2 linked regions of the Homo sapiens genome follow. The protein of the gene in region 1 interacts with the protein of each later gene in a pairwise test. Each region holds a gene or a part of one and is shown on either strand. Other genes may lie near its edges.

What was found.
Region 2: the proteins of PRR36 (region 1) and PELI2 interact in a two-hybrid assay, tested with the Homo sapiens proteins (one study listed by BioGRID).

The regions. Positions count from the first base shown.
Region 1 is NC_000019.10:7,869,226-7,880,231, reverse strand, and holds the start of PRR36 (proline-rich protein 36), read left to right. Parts: upstream 1-5,841; 5' UTR 5,842-5,946; intron 5,947-6,535; 5' UTR 6,536-6,542; coding exon 6,543-6,813; intron 6,814-6,932; coding exon 6,933-7,035; intron 7,036-7,270; coding exon 7,271-7,383; intron 7,384-7,475; coding exon 7,476-10,517; intron 10,518-10,687; coding exon 10,688-11,006.
Region 2 is NC_000014.9:56,287,670-56,298,278, reverse strand, and holds part of PELI2 (E3 ubiquitin-protein ligase pellino homolog 2), read right to left. Parts: intron 9,843-10,609; coding exon 9,645-9,842; intron 8,012-9,644; coding exon 7,823-8,011; intron 5,561-7,822; coding exon of another isoform or gene 5,513-5,560; exon of another isoform or gene 4,924-5,512; intron 1,680-4,923; coding exon 1,113-1,679; 3' UTR 1-1,112. UniProt on the Homo sapiens protein: E3 ubiquitin ligase catalyzing the covalent attachment of ubiquitin moieties onto substrate proteins. Involved in the TLR and IL-1 signaling pathways via interaction with the complex containing IRAK kinases and TRAF6.

The sequences.
Region 1 (11,006 bases):
GGGGTGGCCGAGGGGGAAGAGTGTGTGTCTGCGGGAGAAAGAGGAGAATCGCCCAAGCGGCCTCGGAAGCCCCAGGGAGTGGAGGCTCCCGCCGTGGAGCCATGTGGTGTATGTGTGGTAACACCACGTCTACGCCCCTCTCACTGATGCTGCCGCGGTGTCTGGAGCTGAGCGGGAAACAGCCGCGGTTAGTTTTTTATATGGACTTGGAGACACAGGGCACAGCTGGGCTGACGCCCTCTCCACCGTCCGGCTCCCTCACGTCAATTCCATCTGTCCCCATGTGCCTAGGATCCCTGTGACTCTCAACATGAAGATGGTGACACCTTCCTGATTTGACCTGATGGGGCTGAGTCCAGATGCCCCAGAGGACGAGGCTGGCATCAAGAAGGCAGCAGAGAACATCAAGGCCTTGATTGAGCATGAAATGAAGAACGGGATCCCTGCCAATCGAATCGTCCTGGGAGGCTTTTCACAGGGCGGGGCCCTGTCCCTCTACACGGCCCTCACCTGCCCCCACCCGCTGGCTGGTATCGTAGCATCGAGCTGCTGGCTGCCTCTGCACCGGGCCTTCCCCCAGGCAGCTAAAGGCAGTGGCAAGGGCCTGACCATCCTCCAGTGCCATGGGGAGCTGGACCCCATGGTGCCCGTACGGTTTGGGACCCTGACGGCTGTTGTCACACCTGCCAGGGTCCAGTTCAAGACATACTCGGGTGTCATGCACAGCTGCTGTCCTCAGGAGATGGCAGCTGTGAAGGAATTTCTTGGAGAAGTTGCTGCCTTCTGTCTAACTAGTCGCTGGCCCCAGTGCGGTGCCCCAGCTCATGGGGGACTCAGCAAGCAAGCGTGGCACCATCTTGGATCTGAGCCAGTCGAGCCCCTGTCCCCACCCTTCCTGGCCTGTCCTTTTCCCACAGGCCTCTGGGGCAGGTGGCAAGGCCTGGCCGGGCTTTCCTTCCTGGCCTCAGCCACCTGGCTCTGTCTGCAGCAGGGGCAGGCTGCTTTCTTATCCCATTTCCCTGGAGGCAGGCCTCCCTGGCAGCAGTATTGGAGGGGCTACAGGAAGCTAGAGAAAGGGGCCCAGCTGCTGACCCACTCACTCAGGACCTCACTCACTAGCCCCGCTTTGGGGCCCCTCCTGTGACCTCAGGGTTTGGCCCATGGGGCCCTTCCAGGCCCCTGCTCTAACTGATTCTGCCCAGATAATCGTGTGTCTCCTGCCTCCACTCAGCTACTTCTCAGTCATGAAGGTGGCCATGGCCCTGAGGTCCCCTTGCTGCTGTGGGCTCCCTGTCCCTGGGCAGGAGTGCTGGTGAGGAGGTGGAGCCTTTTGAGGGGGGCCTTCCCTCAGCTGTTTCCCCAAACTGGGGGGCTGGGCCCTGCCTCCCCATTACCCTCCTTCCCTGCAGGCCTGGAGCCTGTAGGGCTGGACTGAGGTTCAGGTCTCCCCCAAGCTGTCTCACTCTGACTTTGTCCCCACTCTAGAGCAGGGAAGGGGTGGGGGAGGAGTTGTGTCTCATCTTCTGTCTCCATGTGGTTTTTGGGTGCTTTTCTTGTTGTGTCCTGGATTCTGATAAAATTAAAGAAATTGCTTCCTCAAAAAAAAAAAAAAATATATATATATATATATATGCCCAGGTGCAGTGGCTCACGCCTGTAATCCCAGCACTTTGGGAGGCCGAGGTGGGTGGATCACCTGAAGTCAGGAGTTCGAGACCATCCTGACCAACATGGAGAAACCCCATCCCTACTAAAACTACAAAATTAGCCGGGCATGGTGGCGCATGCCTGTAATCCCAGCTACTCAGGAGGCTGAGGCAGGAGAATCGCTTGAACCTGGGAGGCAGAGGTTGCGGTGAGCTGATATCGCACCATTGCACTCCAGCCTGGGCAACAAGAGTGAAACTCCGCCTCAAAAATAAATTAATTAATTAAAAATTAGGGCCAAGATCACGCCATTGCACTCCAGCCTGGGTGACAGAGTGAGACTCTGTCTCAAAAAAAAAATATATATATATATGTATATATGTATATATATGTATATATGCGTATACACGTATATATGTATATATGCGTATACACGTATATATGTATATATGTATATATGCGTATACACGTATATATGTATATATGTATATATGCGTATATACGTATATATGTATATATGTATATATGCGTATATACGTATATATGTATATATGTATATATGCGTATATACGTATATATGTATATATGTATATATGCGTATATACGTATATATGTATATATGTATATATATGTATATATGTATATATATACACACACACATATACATATATATTTGTGATTTATTTATTTTTCTTTTAGAGACGGGGTCTCCTTATATTTCCCTAGCTGGCCTCAAACTCCCGGCCTCAAGGGGATCCTCCTGTCTTAGCCTCCCCAGTAGCTGGGACTACAGTCGCCTGGCCCTCACCTGAGAGTCACATGCCTAAGAGTGGCTACGCTGGGCAGTTCATTCAATGTCCCTCCCCCACCTGTTCCAAGCAACCACTGATGTGCTGTCTGTAACTACAGATTAGTCGCATTTTCTGGAATGTTCTATAAATGGAATCATACAGTGCGTGTTTTTTGTAGCTTCTTTTGTTCGGTGTGCTTTTGAGATTAGTCCCTGTTTTGAGAGTAGCATAGTCTGTTCCTTTCTGTTGCCAAGTTTCATTCCATTGTAGGGGACACTTTGATTCATGTTACTCATCCCTCTTGTTGATGGAGGTTTTGGGAGTGTTTTTATAAGAGGGCAGAGTCCAGATCCCAATTAATTACAGGGTGGGTTTTGTGTACCCTGGAGGAACCCTTGCATCATAGTCAGAAGGCAGGTGAAGCTGAGTGAGGTGGCTCCTGCCTGTAATCCCAGCAGTTTTGGAGGCTGAGGTGGGAGAATCACTTGAGCCCAGGAGTTCAAGACCAGCCTGGGTAACAGCGAGACTCTGTTTCTACAAAAAATTTAAAAATTAGCCTGATATGGTGGGGTAGGCTTTAGTCCCAGCTACTTGTTTTTTTGTTGTTGTTTTTGTTTTTGTTTGTTTTTTTGAGATGGAGTCTTGCTCTGTCGCCCAGGCTGGAATGCAATGGCGTGATCTCGGCTCACTGCACCCTCTGCCTCCCAGGTTCAAGCGATTCTCCTACCTCAGCCTCCCGAGTAGTTGGGATTACAGGTGCATGGCCACCATGCCCGGCTAATTTGTGTATTTTTAGTAGAGATGAGGTTTCACCATGTTGGCCAGGCTGGTCTCGAACTCCTGACCTCAAGTGATCTGGGTTTTGTTTTTTATTTTTATTTTTTATTTTTTATTATTTTGAGATGGAGTCTCTCTGTCACCCAGGCTGGAGTGCAGTGGCATGATCTCGGCTCACTGCAACTTCCGCCTCCTGGGTTCAAGCGATTCTCGCGCCTCAGCCTTCCAAGTAGCTGGGACTATAGGCACCACACCCAGCTAATTTTTTTGTATTTTTAGTAGAGACAGAGTTTCACCCTGTTGACTAGGCTGGTCTTGAACTCTTGTCTTCAAATTATCCACCCGCCTCGGCTGATAGTCCCAGCTACTTGGGAGGCTGAGGTGGGAGGATCACTGGAGCCTGGGAGGTCGAGGCTGCAGTGAGCTGTGAAGCTGTGATGATCGTGCCACTGCACTTCAGCCTGGGTGACAGAGTGAGATCCTGTCTCAAAAATAAATAAATAGGAGGGCAGGGATCTGTGTTGGTGGATGTGATTTGGAAGGAGGCACTGGGTGTGGGTGGGTAGACAGGGAACCAGGCTGGTGTCATGCCACAAGGGGTTCACACGGGTGATCATTGCTAGACTGAGGGAGAAGATAAGGCCTAGGATGATCCAATCTGGAGGTCAAAGCATGGCATTCAGCTCTGTCATTTTTCTCTGCCTTCCATTTCTGCAACCTCAAATGGGCGCAACGTCCCTACCCCCCAACCCCAGTTCACCCGATGCCAAGTTGCATTATCTGTTTCCTGTGCATGGAGGCCCCCTGATTTCCAGGAGGGAGTGAACTGTGCATATGAGCTTGCGATGGGGTTAGCAGTGGGGCACAGGGCGCTGGTTTCCTGGAATGGGGTAAAAAGTGGCTGTAAGTCTGGAGGGATGCGACATCCAGGCGGAAAGCTCATGGAGGCCATATGAGGAGGGGACTTGGCCGACAGAGGTGACAAGGCCAGACTCTTTTTTTGTGCATGTGTGACAGAGTCTTGCACTGTCGCCCAGGCTGGAATACAGTGGCACGATTTCGGCTCACTGCAAGCTCTGCCTCCTGGGTTCACGCCATTCTCAGCCATACTCAGGCCATACTCAGCCTCCCGAGTAGCTGGGACTACAGGCGCCCACCACCACGCCCGTTTAATTTTTTGTATTTTTAGTAGAGACAAGGTTTCACCGTGTTAGCCAGGATGGTCTCGATCTCCTGACTTTGTGATCCGCCCACCTCGGCCTCCCAAAGTACTGGGATTACAGGCCTGAGCCACCATGCCCGGCCCAGACTCTTCTTATAAGGAGAGGGAGCTGAGGAATGGCCATTTCCACCCTCAGGCTCCCACCCTCTTCATGCCACAGTCCTGGAGCACCGCTCTCCACCGAGGCCCCTGCCCTGGCTGAAGTCAGCAACAGGACACCTCCCACTCGCTCCGGCTGGGCTGGGACCCTTGTAAAGGATCTTCTGCGTCCTTCATGAACTTGTGTTTTTGTTTTTTTGTTTGTTTTTGTTTTTGAGACAGAGTCTCACTCTGTCGCCCAGGCTGAAGTGCAGTGGCGCAATCTCGGCTCACTGTAACCTCCGCCTCCCGGGTTCAAGCGATTCTCCTGCCTCAGCCTCTCGAGTAGCTGGGATTACAGGTGCTCGCCAGCATGCCCGGCTAATTTTTGTATTTTTTGGTAGAGACAGGGTTTCGCCATGTTGGCCAGACTGGTCTCGAACTCCTGAGCTCAAGTGATCCGCCCGCCTCAGCCTCCCAAAGCAGTGGGATTACAGGTGTGAGCCACCGCGCCCGGCCTTATGCACTTGTTTTGACACCTGCTAGGTCGACAGAACCTTGTCCCCCGGAAGCCCAGCTCTGCCAGGAAGTCTGGGCTGACTTGACATCCCGTTAGCTGGGAGGGTGTGGAGGGTGGGCGTGCTCTACCCTGCAGACGGCTGGGTCACCTCTCACAGAATATACTGTGTCTCCTGTCGCTCTCCCTCCTATTCCTTTCTTTATCTTCCCCAAAATCTGGGGTCTACCTTGCATCCTGAAATTCCCAGGGCAGCATTCTCTTAGCAGTCCCTCGACCCCCCAACCAGATAAGGGGTTTCCTGGCGTCTGGGGAACACCTTCGGGTGTGGGGCGGAGGGCGGCTGCCCCCCAGAGACCCTGGGCGGCCTAGCTTTCGCAGACGCGAAGGACTGGATAGTGCCAGGGCCACCGAGCGGCCGGATTGGTGTGTGGGCCAGAGGCGCGGTGGTCCCGCCTCCTGGTTGCCAGGGCCCAGCCTATCCGCGTCCAGGCGGTCCTTGGTGCCAGGTGGTTGTGGTGGGGGTCGGGGCAGGTGTATGTGTTGGGAAGGACAGTGGAGGACCCCAGGGATTTGCTCCCCCAGTCCCAACCGTTGACTATCTGGGTTCCTCAGGCGCAGCTGGGGAAACAGGCTTCCCCCGGACCGCAGAGAAGCCACCCTTCTCTCCAAAGCGCGCTTCTCCCCCATCCCCCTCGGCGCGCTTCCGCCGGCCGCGCTCCCGGGTCCGGATCGAGCGCGCGCCCCCGGCTCTCCCGCCCGCGGCCGAGGGGCGGGACCGGCTCGGCTCCCCCGGCGCCGCAGCCCGCAGCCCCCTCCCCTCGCCTCCTCGCCGCTGGCGGCCACCGCGTCGCTCCGGCCCGGGCCCCACCCCAGGCGACTCTGTGAGGAGCGGCCGGAGGCCGGAGGCGGAGGTGAGCGCGACGCGAGCAGGTGGAGAGGCTGGGCGCGGGCCAGGCCCGGCTGGGGGAGGGGTCGGGCCCGGGACGCGGCTCTTTGTCTCCCGGAGCCCGTTCGCGGGCAGCGGGGCCGCTCTGCCTCCCGGCAGGTGCAGGCATCCCTCGGGGAGGCCAGGGGAGGCCGATGGGGGCTGGCGGGGAGACCCGGGCGTGCGCTCCGGGTCTGGAGGGATGCGACATCCTGAGCCCGTGGCAGTCCCCCGCTCTCGAGGCTGGCGGTCTGAGTCCCTGAAGGGGCAAGGGGCAGGGGCGTGGAGATCGGTCCTGAATTGGAGCCGAGGCGGGGGAGGCGGTGGGCTGGGGCGGGCAGGGCCTCTTCGCTTTAGGGAAAAGCGGTGGGGGGTGGGACTTGGGGACAGCGAGGAGCAGTGGGGCTGGCGAGTGGGTGTAGGTGCGTGGGAGCCGAGCGGATGGAAGCCGAGGCCGAGGTTTGAGTGTCCATGGGTGGCGATGCTGCGAAAGGGCAGTGAGGTAGCAGGGTCCAGGTCTCTGGAGGCGGCGTAGCTGTCCAGAACCTGGGATGCGGACCGGTTTGTCTCTTCAGGTGCAAGATGGACAACAAGAGAGACAAGGCGAAGGCAGGGGCCGCCGCGCGGACGCCGGCTGCTCGCGCTCCTGGACTTCTGACCCCCAGGCCCCCAGGCTCTCCTCGACCCCCTCCCCCAGTAACTCCCGCAGCCCTCCGAGTTCTGGGAGCTGCGGGAGCAGTGGGGCGAAAGCCTCTGGCAGAGCGAGCGGGGGGCATCGGCGGGGCCACTATTCCCGAGTCTGCTCCCCGAGCGGGACCAACGCGGAGTGCTGGGACAAGTTCCCGAAACCCTGGTACCCCAGCCTCCTTCCTCAGCTCCGCCCCCATCTTCCCTCCCCCTTCCAATACCTGTCCAGTCTCACCTCCACTGCCACCTCTCCGGGGCACCTGTGACTCGGCCTTCTCCCCGCAGCCTCCAGGCCCCCAGCCTCTGGGAGAGGGGAGAGAGCTCCTCCTGCCAAGAACACCAGCCCAGGCCCTGTTTCTAGCCCAGGGCGTGCCAGCGGGACCACCAGGTAACCTGCTCCCTCTCCCCCAGTCTCCTAAGCCAGGGTTAGCGTCACAGAGTCTGGAACCTTTTATTTTACACGAGTTGGGGCGCGGGAGCACTTGCAGGTCACTGGGCACAAATTGGGTGAAAGCCATTATTGGTCCTCAGAGAGGGCACATGCCCATTTCACAGATGGGAAAATAGAGACTTGGGAAGCCAAACAAAGACCTAGGCCTGAGCGTGGCCCCTTCTGTCTCCAGGCCAGGCCCTCTTGGCCAGAAGGGACTCCGGATCTCAGCGGAGGAAACTGTGGCCAGAGGAAAAGCTACAGAGGCTCCCAAAAGGAGTGCCCTCAGCGCTGGGGCACGGAGAGGTACGTGACCTGGAGAAGAGTGGGGTTCCTGGGCAGCAAGGGGAGCCGCCTCAGAGGTATCGGTGACCCTTGGCCTTCTACTTTTTCTCCAGACACTTCCGGGCCTACCCCAGGAACCCCGTCCCCGGCCATGGCCCGTCGGTCCCGGGCTGCGGGCACCGAGGTGGGGCTCCCCCGGCCAGCTCCGAGTGCCCGGCCACGGCCCCCGACAGAGGGCCCCCGGAAATCAGTGAGCAGCGCCTCGGAGCACAGTACCACCGAGCCAAGCCCGGCTGCCAGGAGGCGGCCCAGCGCCGGTGGGGGTCTCCAGAGGCCGGCCTCGCGCTCCCTGAGCTCCAGCGCCACCCCTCTCTCCTCCCCAGCCCGTTCTGGGCCCTCAGCCCGCGGAACACCCAGGGCTCCTGCGCATCCCTCGCAGCCCAAGCCGAAAGGACTGCAGGCTCTGCGACCCCCTCAGGTCACACCCCCAAGGAAGGACGCAGCCCCAGCACTAGGACCGCTTTCTTCCTCTCCTTTGGCCACACCCTCTCCATCGGGTACCAAGGCAAGACCCGTACCGCCTCCCGACAATGCAGCCACTCCCCTGCCAGCCACGCTCCCTCCCTCTCCACCGGTAACGCCCCCTCCGCCAGCCGCTCTCCAAAGTCAGGCCCCGCCCACCCTGCCGGCCACGCCCCACTCGTCGAGCCTTACCTGTCAGTTGGCCACGCCCCTTCCTCTAGCCCCTCCTTCTCCCTCTGCTCCACCTTCTCTGCAGACCCTCCCCTCTCCACCAGCCACGCCCCCCTCGCAAGTTCCACCCACACAGCTGATTATGTCCTTTCCAGAAGCAGGCGTCTCTTCCCTGGCCACAGCCGCTTTTGTGGCTTCAGTCTCTCCATCAGTTTCATCCCCTCTGCAGAGTATGCCCCCCACCCAAGCTAATCCAGCGTTGCCCTCTCTTCCGACTCTCCTCTCTCCCTTGGCCACACCTCCTCTGTCAGCCATGTCTCCTCTACAAGGCCCTGTTTCTCCGGCAACATCTCTGGGGAATTCGGCTTTTCCCCTGGCCGCACTCCCTCAGCCAGGCCTTTCTGCTCTGACCACGCCCCCTCCGCAGGCCAGTCCTTCCCCGTCTCCGCCCTCTCTCCAGGCCACGCCCCACACTCTGGCCACTCTTCCTCTGCAGGACTCTCCTCTTCTGGCCACATTGCCTCTGCAGGCCTCTCCCTCTCCTTTGACCACAGTCTCTCTGCAGGATCCTCCTCTAGTTTCTCCCTCTCTTTTGGCCTCACCGCCTCTGCAGGCTCCGCCCCACCCACAGGCCCCACCTTCTATGACTACGCCCCCTATGCAGGCCCCGCCCTCTCTCCAGACCATTCCCCCAATACAGGTCCCACATTCTCTGACCTCACCGTCTCTGCAGGCACCTCCCTCTCCTCTGGCTTTGTCCTCTCTGCAGGCCACAACTTCTTTGGGCTCACCCACTCTGCAGGCCACACATTCTTTCCTGACAATGTCCCCTAGGCAAACCCAAGCTTCTTTGATCTCACCTTCTCGGCCGGCCTCTACTCCCCCTGATTCACCCCCTCTGCAGGCCCCTCTTTCCCTTCCTGCCTCACCCCCTCTGCAGACTTCTCTCTCTCCTGCTGTCTCACCCCTAAGCTCACCCCTGACCATACACCCTCTGCAGGCGCTATCTTCTCTGGCCTCCCACTCTCCTCAGGCACCTCTCTCTTCCCTGATCATGCCCCCTCTGGAGACCCAATCTTCCCTAGCCCCACCCTCTCTGCAGACACCTCCTGCTTCCCTGACCACACCCCCTCTGGAGAACCTACCTTCTCTAGCCCCGCCTCCTCTGCAGACAGCTTCTGCTCCCCTGACCACACCCCCTCTGGAGAACCTACCTTCTCTAGCCCCGCCTCCTCTGCAGACAGCTTCTGCTCCCCTGACCACACCCCATCTGGAGACTCCACCTTGTCCAGCCCCATGCCCTCTGCAAGCACCACCTTCGCCATTGACCACGCCCCCTCCGGAGACGCCCTCTTCCATAGCCACGCCTCCTCCACAGGCCCCACCTGCTCTGGCCTCACCCCCTTTGCAGGGCCTGCCCTCTCCCCCTCTGTCTCCTTTGGCCACGCCCCCTCCACAGGCCCCACCTGCCCTGGCCTTGCCTCCTCTGCAGGCCCCTCCCTCTCCCCCTGCCTCACCCCCTCTGTCTCCTTTGGCCACACCCTCTCCACAGGCCCCAAATGCTCTGGCAGTGCACCTTCTGCAGGCCCCTTTCTCTCCCCCTCCCTCACCCCCAGTGCAGGCCCCTTTCTCTCCCCCTGCCTCACCCCCAGTGTCTCCTTCGGCCACGCCCCCTTCACAGGCCCCACCCTCTCTAGCCGCACCTCCTCTGCAGGTCCCACCCTCTCCCCCTGCCTCTCCCCCAATGTCTCCTTCAGCCACGCCCCCTCCACAGGCCCCACCCCCTCTCGCTGCGCCTCCTCTGCAGGTCCCACCCTCTCCCCCTGCCTCTCCCCCAATGTCTCCTTCGGCCACGCCCCCTCCACGGGTCCCACCCCTTCTTGCCGCTCCTCCTCTGCAGGTCCCGCCCTCTCCCCCTGCCTCACTCCCAATGTCTCCTTTGGCTAAGCCCCCTCCACAGGCCCCACCTGCTCTGGCCACACCTCCTCTGCAGGCCCTTCCCTCTCCGCCTGCCTCATTCCCTGGGCAGGCCCCTTTCTCACCCTCTGCCTCACTCCCAATGTCTCCTTTGGCCACGCCTCCTCCACAGGCCCCACCTGTTCTGGCAGCGCCCCTTCTGCAGGTCCCTCCCTCTCCCCCTGCCTCACCCACCCTGCAGGCCCCACGCCGCCCCCCGACCCCGGGTCCGGATACCTCCGTCTCGGGCCCACGGCTGACCCTGGCGTTGGCCCCCGGCCCGCCGCCGCCGCCCTCGCGCAGCCCGTCCAGCACGCTGAGCGGCCCAGACCTGGCCGGCCACAGCAGCAGCGCCACGAGCACGCCAGAGGAGCTGCGTGGCTACGACAGCGGGCCCGAGGGCGGTGCCGCAGCCTCCCCGCCCCCCGACGCAGAGCTCGCCGCTTGCCACCCGGCTGCCTGGAGTCGAGGCCCCGCTCCGCCGCTGGCTTTCCGCGGAGCCCCAGGTAAGGGGCACCCCAGACCCGGCCTGGCTGTGGGCGGGGTCGGAGGCGAGGCTTCGCAGCTCAGGGGCGGGACAGCTGGGTCCGGGGCGGAGCTTAGACAAGGAGGCGGGACCTTGAGGCAGGGGCGGGGCTTATCACCCCCACGGCCCACCTGGCGTCTCTCCCCGCAGGTGCGCCCCTGCCGTGGCCTCCCGCTACCGGACCGGGCTCTGCTGACGGTCTGTGCACCATCTACGAGACTGAAGGGCCCGAGTCGGCGACCCCCGCCCCTGGCGCACTGGATCCGGGGCCCAGTCCCGGCACGAGCGGTGGGAAGGCGGCGGCTGGGGCCGGGGCCGGGGCGTCCTCGCGGAGCCCGAAGCAGGCGCGCCTGGGCGAGCTGCCACTGGGGGCGCTGCAGGCGAGCGTCGTGCAGCACCTGCTGAGCCGGACGCTGCTGCTGGCGGCTGCCGAGGGTGCCGCGGGCGGCAGCGGCGGGGGCCCAGGAGG
Region 2 (10,609 bases), on another chromosome or scaffold:
TGGTGTTGTGTATATCTAATCATCCCACTTAAATTTAGTTTGATTCGCAAACATTTTCAAAACTTACTGGGCTCCTTAAGCTGCAAGGGAAGGTGACAGATGGTGAAAAGGGAGTGCACAACAATGACTATATCATTGTGATTGGTTGGCTTTCTTAACAAAGGAAAAAAAAAAACCCCAAGCTTTATGAAACCTCAAGTGGTTTTAAAAAGTAAAAGCTTATTTTTAATCATTCTTAAATCTTAATTCAGTCAGCAAATAAACATGGTAGTATAGTACCCAGACCATGTCTACTACTGTAATTACCCTCAGTTAATGAGTTTTTAAGAGCTGATGTATTTTAATCAACCAAACAGTTCTGGCCGTGCAAGATGAGTATCGGGGCAAATCATATTAGGCAGAAATAACAAAAGACAGGCTAAAAAGTTATGGAAAATTGTTTGTGAAGTCCCATGTATTTGATGAATGAATATCTAAAGTAAATTCCACTGAAGTTAAAAAAAAAAAAAGCCCACAAGTTATGAATATTCTCTCCCCCAACAAGTCAGAAAAATAAATCAGAAAAAGCCCCAGATTTCAAAACCACCTGTGCCTAAGGCCATCTGTCCACCAGTCACACTGTACAGAGCCGCCCCTCTGCTGTCTGGTCAGGTTTGAGCCACGATCAAGTATTTCTAGACACTGTGCGCCCTTCGCGTAACACCTACACCACACTGCACTGAAGTGAACTTCATGAGCCCACACTTTTGAATAAATTTCTTCTACATCTGTAAAATATGATTTAAAGTCTTGTCCAAGATTACAAAAAAAAAAAAACTTGGTTAAAAACCCAAGGTTAAAAATAGAAGCATAGCATTTTAAATCCAATTATTACAAAGATATTATGGTTTAATCAAGCAGACTTCAATGACGACGCTGCTGTTTTGAGCATGCAACACACCACTGGTATCTGTTACACTCCTGCCATGTTTCATCACCATGTCCCCTCTCTTTATTTCCAGCCCCTGTCACCCTCCTCTGATAAACAGCATTACAAAAAGGTAAAATCTAGAGTTAGTGGCAAAATCTTCACAGTAACCTGTTAATAAAGTCGTAGATGGCTGTCAAGGGCGTCAGTCAATTGGACCTTGGAAAATTAATTTGATGCAGTTTTGCTCCCCAACCAGCTGTGTAGCACAGAAAGGGCAAGCAGCGTGAAATGCATGAGTTCCATGAGGCAACGGGATCTGAGACCAGTATTTTGCAGACTTCTCCGAGCACACGTGTCCACAGGGAGTGAAAGCATGAGTTGGCGGTCCTGCGTCTACATAAAATCCTGCCTCACAGCCAAGCCAGAGAGGCACATAGGGGCCCACAGTCCTGCACATGGGACACTCCCTCTCGTTGGCCTCCGTGTCACTCCGATGGCCCCAGTTGTGGTACCCGTGCACGTGGCCACAACTGAGATATGCCCAGGGCTGCTTCTCCTCCACCACCTCTTTCCTGTTGATGCTGGGGAAGGCCAGGGTGTTGAGCCCCACAGGACACTGAGGCCGGGCGGCGTTAATCTCCTGCCGGAGGGCTTCTATGTGCTTCTGAGTTGGAGTATGAAAAAGCCCATCTGCTGTTCTCCAGAGGAGAGTGGCCCCACACAGGTCAATGAGGGAGCCGTCCTGCAGGACGTTGGTCTCACTTTCCACCTACAACAAGTTTGAGACACATGCCTTTTAAAAGCAAAATCAAGCAAATCACTCCAAGATTCTTTCCTCTCAGAACAAGCAAAAAAATATTTGAAGATAACACAGGGAAGCAATTTATCCCACAAAAACAGAACTGGGGGAGTAACCTATCCTCCCCGAGCCTCATCTTCCTCATCTGATCACTGGATATGATACATATATGCCGTATGTACAAAGCCCTGAGCACAGTATGTATACCTAGCTTTACATGTTCAATTACTGTAGTGGTTATTTTAATGAACTTCACAAATCTCCTAAGATTTTCTTTTTAACTCCTTAAGTCAGTAACACAATGACTCACTGATCCCATAGGATGAGAGATGTCCTACCAGTCCATCCAGTGGAGACTCATCCTCATCTTGATGACAGCCAATCCAGAAGATCTTGCGGGGGGCCTGCAGTCATTACTGGAGGGTCCAAAGCACTCCTGGTGACCCTTAGCTTCCTCCACCTTGAATCTATCTTTCATCATTCATTTTTAAGGTTTGAAGCTAAACAGTTCAACATGAGCCTTCATTTTTAGAAGGAGGCCTGTGCTATGCACTAAGTGCTTATAAGACTGATTAACAGCTGACAAGCAGCAGCTAGGCGTGGTCAGCAAGAACGTGACCGCTGCCTCCACATGCCAGATGCATGCTAAGCCTTGGAGGTACCAAAGGCCAATAAAACCTCTTCCCCATCCTGCTGAGACTTGCTCTTCAGTAGTGGAAGGCAGACATGCCCAGAGCTCAGAGTGCATGAAGGCCAGTAAAGCACTGTTCAAGGCCACAAATTTATAGCAGCCAGGAGTGTGGACTCTGGGTTTGAACCCTGGCTCTCCCACTTATTAGCTGTATGACGCTGTGCAGATTACTTAAACTCCTCGTGCCTCAGTTTCCCCTTGTTTAAACTTTAGAAAAGGTGGTTGTGTTAGATAAGTAAATGCAAAGAGTTCTTAGAGAACACTGTCTGGTACGCAGTCAACACTCTGTAAATACCTGCTACTATTACTCTGATGATGACAGACGGTCAGAAATGGTTTCTAAAAGGTTTTTCTTTAACAGAGATTTGAGAAAGATGTCAGGCCTCAGTAGGGAGGATAGCAGGAAGGCACAGCAGGGAGAAGGAGGAGAGGCCAAATGGCATATGCACCAAGGGAGCAACAGGGAGTTTGATGAGGCTGTGCAGCCAGGCTGAACAAGGATGGACGCAGTTCAGGGCACTGGGTGGGGGGGGACGAGAGACCCAGGCGGGAGAGGGAGGCTGGCATCCATGCCCAGAGGGAGTTGGTAGGGGGTTTAGGTAACTATAAAAGAACTGATTGACCTTTCAAAAAGGTCACTTCTAGAACTTTGGAGGGTGGGTTGGAGGGGTAAAGATGAGCTGTGAAGGAGGCAACTGGTGCTCTCTCTGGGTAGAGAGGGTGAGTACACCTCAACAAAGACAGTCTCAGTGGCAAGAGACAGAGGCACAGGGACTAGAGAGAAAGAAATTAGACTCGATGGCACTCAGCTCTTGATCTGAGCAAGAGCCTCTTACGTGCCTGGTTGTCTGGGTAGAACAGTGCTTTCCACAGACAGAAACACAGGAGAAATGGCAGATGAGGGAGTAAATCCTGATTTCACCACTTAGTAGCTCTGTGGTCTTGAGTCAACGACTTAACCTCTCTGGGCCTGGCTTCCACATCCATTAAGCTGGAATAATGCCAATACATGTCTTATAGGATTGTTGTGAGAACTAAATAAGTTCAACAGCAAGAGCCAGGCCAGTTCAGTTTTGGGTGTGCTGAATGTGAGGGTGTGCAGAGTATCGGTGGTGGTAATGCATACAAGGCACGTGTGATGCAGCGTTGGAGACAGATCAGGCTCGAAGAAACATATCTGGGATGTTATCCGCACCTAGGTGAAGCTGTGGGAATGGATGCCACTGCCCAGGCAGGGTCCCAGGGAGGGCAGAGAGGACTGAGGACAGAGCCAGGAGCTGGGGTGGAGGAAAAGAACCATGTAAGGGAAAGAGAGAGGTATGGGAAGCACCAGAAATTTTGTCAATCTTTGGTTCAAAGGACTTTGGCGGCTTTCTGCTGCCCTTGGGGTACAGCCCAAGCTTCTTAACACACTTAAAAGGTCACTCCCAATGCAGTCACTCGACTTCTCCTGCTGTAGCTCTTCCCTTCCTAACTGGAAACCAGGACTGTCCTGCGATGAGCTGCAAGGAGCTGGAGTCCATGAGCGCACTACCTCGGACTGCCCACAGGCAGGTGCAAGAGCAACCTCTGCCTAGAATACTCCACTCCAGTACACCCTGCTCCAGCTGAGCCCTGGTTGGCAAACTCCTACTTGTCATCCAGGTCTCACCTGGATGTCACTTTGCCCTGGACATTTTCCTTGTCATGAAGAAATCAGCCCTTCCCAAGTATTAGTTTTTAGAAAAAGTTAAGGTCCCAACAAATGATAAATCTTAATACTGTACAGGACATACACTGTGACTCCTTTCAGACAGCCTGAAGTTTGCTGATGCTCCTTCCCCGCCCCACCACCATACCGAGCATCCCATGGTCTCCTCTCCTCTAACTGGTGACGTGAGGCTCCTGACCTTGCTGACCACAGGCAATTCTCAGAGGAGGCCTCATTGCAGGATAAAACTGTGTCTAAAGGATCACCCTGATGTGGTAAGAAGCTGAGGTATGGTGGTGGCCTAGCCTCTGGCTGTGGAACAACCCCCCTTTCCTCCTGCAGGGCAGTTCTTGGTAAACAACAAAGTCTTATTATAAATCTGGGGTGTATGGTTTTTTATTTTCCACATACCCTTGACTCCCACATCTGGGGTAGGTGTCCTGTGGAGGGAAAGTACCTTCGGTACCTTCTCATGACTGTGCTCATCACACAGTATCTGCTGATCTGCTGCCTAGTCTGTGACCTCCTCCAGACCATGCAATTAGAGGGCAGAGCGTGGACTTGGTGTTTTCTGCCACATCCCCAGTTTGCAACCCCTGCTTAGTAATAACAACCAGCCAGTCATGGGGCATTACTGTGTCCAGCACTGTTCCAATCCTTTCCAGCTACTGAATTTAGTTCTCACAACAGTCCTATTAGACATGTATTAATATTATTCCAGTTTGGGAGATGTGGAAGCCAGGCACAGAGAGGTTACGTCGTCAATTCAATACCACAGAACTAAGTGGTGAAACCAGGACTTGAACCTGGTGGCCTGATTTAGCAATCATTAGTAGGCATGAATTCAGATTTTATTTTTTAAATTCTACCACAAAAGAAAAGCTATGAGCAGGCACAGGAATTGACAGTATTGTGGAAGCAAGAGACATTTGGCCTCTACCATGGCAACTAATGGCCCCTACATAGCAACTATCTAAGCACAGGGTAGTGAATTCAACCCCCCATCCACCACTTCTTATTAGCAAGTGACTTAACCTTTTAAAGCCCAGGTTTCCTCATCTGTAGACGGACACAATAACAACACTGACTTCACGGGTTATTTTAAGCAACACTGGAAAGACAATTAATGTAATGCACCTGCTAGAGCCTGACCATAGCTACGCTATGGTTATTTTTATAATTTCACCTAAAATTAGGTATGCAATCAACTTAACTGAATTTACTTAATTTTATACAAAGCCAGTTTAGTTTAATAAAATACTTCATATATAATTTAATTAAATACTCAAGGCCCTCCTGGAGTAATATTATAAATGTTACCATATGTTATCATTAACTAGCTAAAAAAGGAGGGCACAATTCAAACTCCATTCACCTATTTATTCAGGGAGTTAAAGGCCTGAAAAGACATTTCCCCCATATTTAATTAATTTTGTTGATTAGTACACAGTTCTGAGGTTCCATCATTTGCTGTAATAATGAAAAACAACGGTGATTTCTTGTTACACATACATTAGTATATTGATTCATATCAAATGCTCAGTATGATATTAATACATAATCTTCCACCAGCACTAGCTCCACAATGTGACTACTATTGTTTTAACAAATATTTTAGACTTTTAGCAGCTCACTTTATTTCTCATATTTCTGTATTAGACTGCAAATGACAAGTACTGCCAGAGACTGTCTCCAAAATCTAACCTCCAGATAAACATAATTTATATCAAATGCTACCAGCAACATGTACAGGACCAATGAGTCATGAATTGAAACAGAAGTTCAAAGAGTCAGTAAGCTTTCCTCGAAGACAGACAAAAACTGTTCTCCAGAGGTTAACAAGAGGAGATTGCAGGAAGAATGTATCCGTTCAGTGTCCCATAAGCCCAAGATCAGGCTGATAGAAGCCTTTGTAACTGGCCAGGTTAATCGGATGCTATCAAATAGGACAGCACAATTTTACATAGTTCTCAGTGTCGCTTATAGGGACTAACTTCAAAAATAGCCTGTATATTTAATACAACTCATTAATACAAGCCATTTTTGGAGTTCGTTCTTTTCAGTCGCACTGTAAAATTCTCCAGCACACATAGCAGCCTGAGAAGGGTCATTACACAATAACCAGAGTGGACGAGAAACTCATCCTGTGATATGCCCTCCTGGACAAAGGCGCTCCCCACGGACTCCAGCGTATGCTTTATACTCACCCAGGGAGGCAAATGCTCAGGTGTAAACCATCCCTGGCTCCCCACAACATGGTACTGAGTAGTATTAGGTGTCCAGGCTCTCCATCAGGGAGACCTGAGTTTGAATCCCACTGGCTGCCACCTGCTAACTCTGTGACACTGGGCAATCTTTAACTTCACGCCACATCTTCCTCATCCATGAAATGGGGATGACTCTACTTCCCTAAGAGGGCTGCTGTGCAGATGAAGTGAGCTCATGTCGGAAATGTTAACGCAGAGTCTGCACCCAGCAACCATTTACTGACTTCTTACTCTTGCTGTTATAATGATGAATAACCAGTTTGGCCAATCTAGGTCAGTTTTGTATAAAACTATCCAGTGATCAGAAACAAAAGATTATTTAGAAAAACTGCTTTCACATTTCCTCCTTTGTTTACAATTTCTTGAAAACATTCATACAAAATTTATTGAATTTGCTTTTTTTTTAGAAAATGCTTCTCATATTTATTCAGCCATGGTGCACTGTAAGACGCATACGCTGTGCCTGAAGCTGAAAAATGGTGTAAAATAGAAATAAAAATAACCATTCCCTAAACACAAACATCCAGTAGAGAACAGCAAATGAGGTCAGTGAAACAGCCCCCAACTTCTTTTTCCATCTTAGACATTTTTGGTGATGATCTTTCTCTCTGACAAGTGCTAGGTCAAATCCTCTATTCTGTATACATTTTATTCTGTGGGAGTTTTGAAGAACTCCTTCTTTTCTAGCTTCTAGAAAAAGACATTTGTTCTCTCTCGTTCTAGCTTCTACCTAGCAAATTAAGAAAAGTACAGGAATGGACAGCTTACTAAAAATCAGTGGCTGTGCTACATGGCTATGGCAAGATCAGAAACCCAAAGTTCTATATTTAAGGTATTATAATTATTCTCCAAGAAAGAATGGGTTTAAAAAAACTGCTTTAGGGCATGGGGATAAGTGGTGATATTTATAGGAAAATATTAACATGCCAGGTCAATGCAGTATATAAATCATTTCAAGTAAACAGTTGTAACTATGATTTTGGTGGACAGTATAGAGAATTCTGCCTTAATATATAGGAATTCAAAGGGAAAACCAGCTGACTTATTTTTTACTTCCAGAAAGTCTAGTAAATAATTCCTTAATGCATAATTTTTACTAATTGTTTTTGGACTGCTCAAACGTTTTCCAAATCAATAAAGTTTTACACTAAAAATAAGTTTCTTCTCCTTAAAGTGAATTTAAGTAGATTTTTGTGGTGAGGTATATAATAAAAGATAATGCTCTTCAGGTGGTAAGGAGCAAAACACAATTTACTCCCACTATGGGAAAAGTTGAACCCCTGAAGGAGATAAGGCCATTTCCCTCTTGATTTCAGGGGCTTGTGGAATTCTGCTTCTCCTGAGTTACAGTACATGGCGCTTGGACCTGCACAAAGGTTCTGAACATCAGGGGAGGAAAATGATAGCCTTCGAGTTAGGCTTGAGTAGTTTCGTACTTCACACTTGCAGAGTGAAGCACACTCACCAGCTTTCCTCGTTGCTGGGCCGACCTGGTTTCTCGCAAGGTGTACACATCTCCACAGACAGAGATCTCGCGCCAGACCCCGGGCTGGGACTCCTCGGTGAAGCCCCCTCGTGGATGCATCACCAGGACGCCATTAGTAGTGAGCCCATCCATGTGGCCGTCGGGGTTTTTCCACTTTGCTGCCTTTTCCTGGAGAGAACACAGCAGAACAGAAAAAGTAGGTTAAGATGATGTTGAAATGGAAAGGATTCTGGAATTTCTTTAATACATTGCATAGAGGCAGAGGGGAGGAAGGTGATGAATTTTCATTTTCTATTTAAAGCTAATAATCACAAGGATAACATATGCCATCCTTTCGACAATATAAAAGAAGTGCTGAATGGATGAATGACTTATCACTGGACACACATCATAGTTCTCAAGAACTTGCAAAAAATCGAGGCCTGGGCTTCTCCCTCTAAGATTCTTTTTACCTTCCCCACAACCCCATGAGATTCCAGGAATCTGGTGTGTTTTCTCTTTTCAGTTATACTTATGCCATGCTCCTATCCTGTTATCTAAAAGTACTTTCTATGTTCTCACTGTCAGGATAGAGAAGAGAAAGGACAGTCATAAAGAAAGACCTTTTATTAAAGCTAGAAAATTCCAAAAATGTTAAGCCAACAAGTCGGGGTCATTATGTTTTCATAATAATCACCGTTTAAATTCTCAAAGGTAGATGGCGCATGTAGCTTGACATGACGACAGGACAGACACTCTTGGGTGCTTGTGCCACAGCTCTTCCCTTCAGCTTTCTTGGTGACAGAGCTCAGCTACTGTTCATGTGGCTGGGGCGGGGGTTGGGGGGTGGTGGGGAATCCTGATTAACCCAACATGACACTCCCAGCCCTCTTCCCAATAGCTGGTTTACAGGTGGGCACAGCACATGACTGGGCTCTGACTGATGACACATGATATCTTCTTGGAGGCTTCCAAGAAAGGTGTCTGTGCTCTAAGAAGAGACAAGGAAGAAACAGTGCTTCTGCCACCCTCTTCTCTGGCTGGAAGTTGTCATGTGGCAGGGGACATCTGGAAGTGCAGGAGCCAGCTCTCACCCACAAGAAGACCTCCCAGGAAGAGGCTGGTGCACCACGGGAGGCAGAAGGCAAGACAGAGAGAACCCAGTGCACTGGATGTCACAGAACCACTGAACCACCAACCCTGGAGCTGGCCTTCATCGGCACTTCTTATGTGGGAATAGTACATTTTCACTGATTTTAGATCATTTTGAGTGGGTTTTTTCCTGCAAAAATATCCTAATTCAAAAGGAAACTATGTTAAACCTGGATATTCACTAAAACTTCTGGGGTTTACAAGGAAACCCTATAAGGGCAGGGATTCAAGTCTGTGTTGTTCTCTGTAATCCCATAACTAAAACACCCAGTATGGAACATAGCAAACACTCATAAAACATTTTTGAATGAGTGAATCACTAACATTTTCCTCTAAGCCCTAATGATCTAAATTTGGCCCATTTATTTTTCTCTCTGAAATAAACCTCTTCGTTGCCGTAAATACATTATGGACAATGTTATAGGCATACTTTAAAAAAAGTACTTACTGTAAATATTACAATATAAAAAATATAATGAATAACAAGCAATGCTTATTAATGTTCAGATTTTTAATAACAAGTTTCTCAAACTGGCCACCTGAAAACTAAAATCTCAAAATCTCACTAGAGGCAACATACAAAGCCAATTTTTTTTTGCTCCAATTAAATGTTCCATATCATAATCACAAGCATTTTTCTAGAAATCGTGTACTTCTTGACAGTACTTACTCCAAGAAATATGTTTTTGGAAGAGTCAAATCCGGCGGCGAATATCCGTGCTGTGTAAGGTTCATTCCTGTCGCACACGATCCTGCAGGCGAACCTGGATATGGTGCTCTGTGTGATCTGGGCTTCGTCCGTGTTCTGGCTGCCAGAAATCGTGTCTGTGACAACGAAGTCGATAGGGCTTTCTGTTGATCTGCCCACCTAAGTAAATCAAATGTACTCGTGATTCACTTGGAAAATAGCAGGGTGCCGTATTTTATTCACAAGGAAAAAGCATTCAGGATTCCTTTAACATTCACTATCCTTGTTCTGAGGGTTAGAATTTAATGCAAGATTTTCATTCGTGCTCCTTTTCCTATTTAACTAGGGAAGATATTAGGGTAACCAAATATTAGAGATACCTATTTTTAATTTTATTGTATTGTGCTAAGAATATAATATGAGATGTATCCTCTGAAATATTTGAGCACATAATGCAGTCATTGTTGACTACAGGCAGAACGGTGCACAGCAACTCTCTAGAACTTACTCATCTTGCTTAACTCACTTTATGCCACTCACTAGTTCATTAGATTTTAAGTATTGAGAAAAAGCTCAATTAAGAGGACAGGAGTAGATCTTTGGCCACTCATCAGATTTTATCTCTTGGATTAATGTTCTATCCCAACAACTGTAACTCTGATTCTGAAGTTGCCAATGGGAGGAATGCAGAGGCCTGTGATGTATGCACATAAAGTTCCCAAAAGTCAATTTCCAAGGCATTTTTATTCTGGTCTCAAAGTTCTATCTACAAACTAGGCAATGTAATACATTTTTCATCCAAATGAAGAAAGTAGAAAAAAAATCTTGTATCACTTAGCTCAGCTTGCTTCCTGGAACAATATTACATTTCTTTTGTAAATCTCATATATACGTTCTCATGCACAGACTATCTCTCTAAAACCAGCAGACCACAGACATCTATTTTC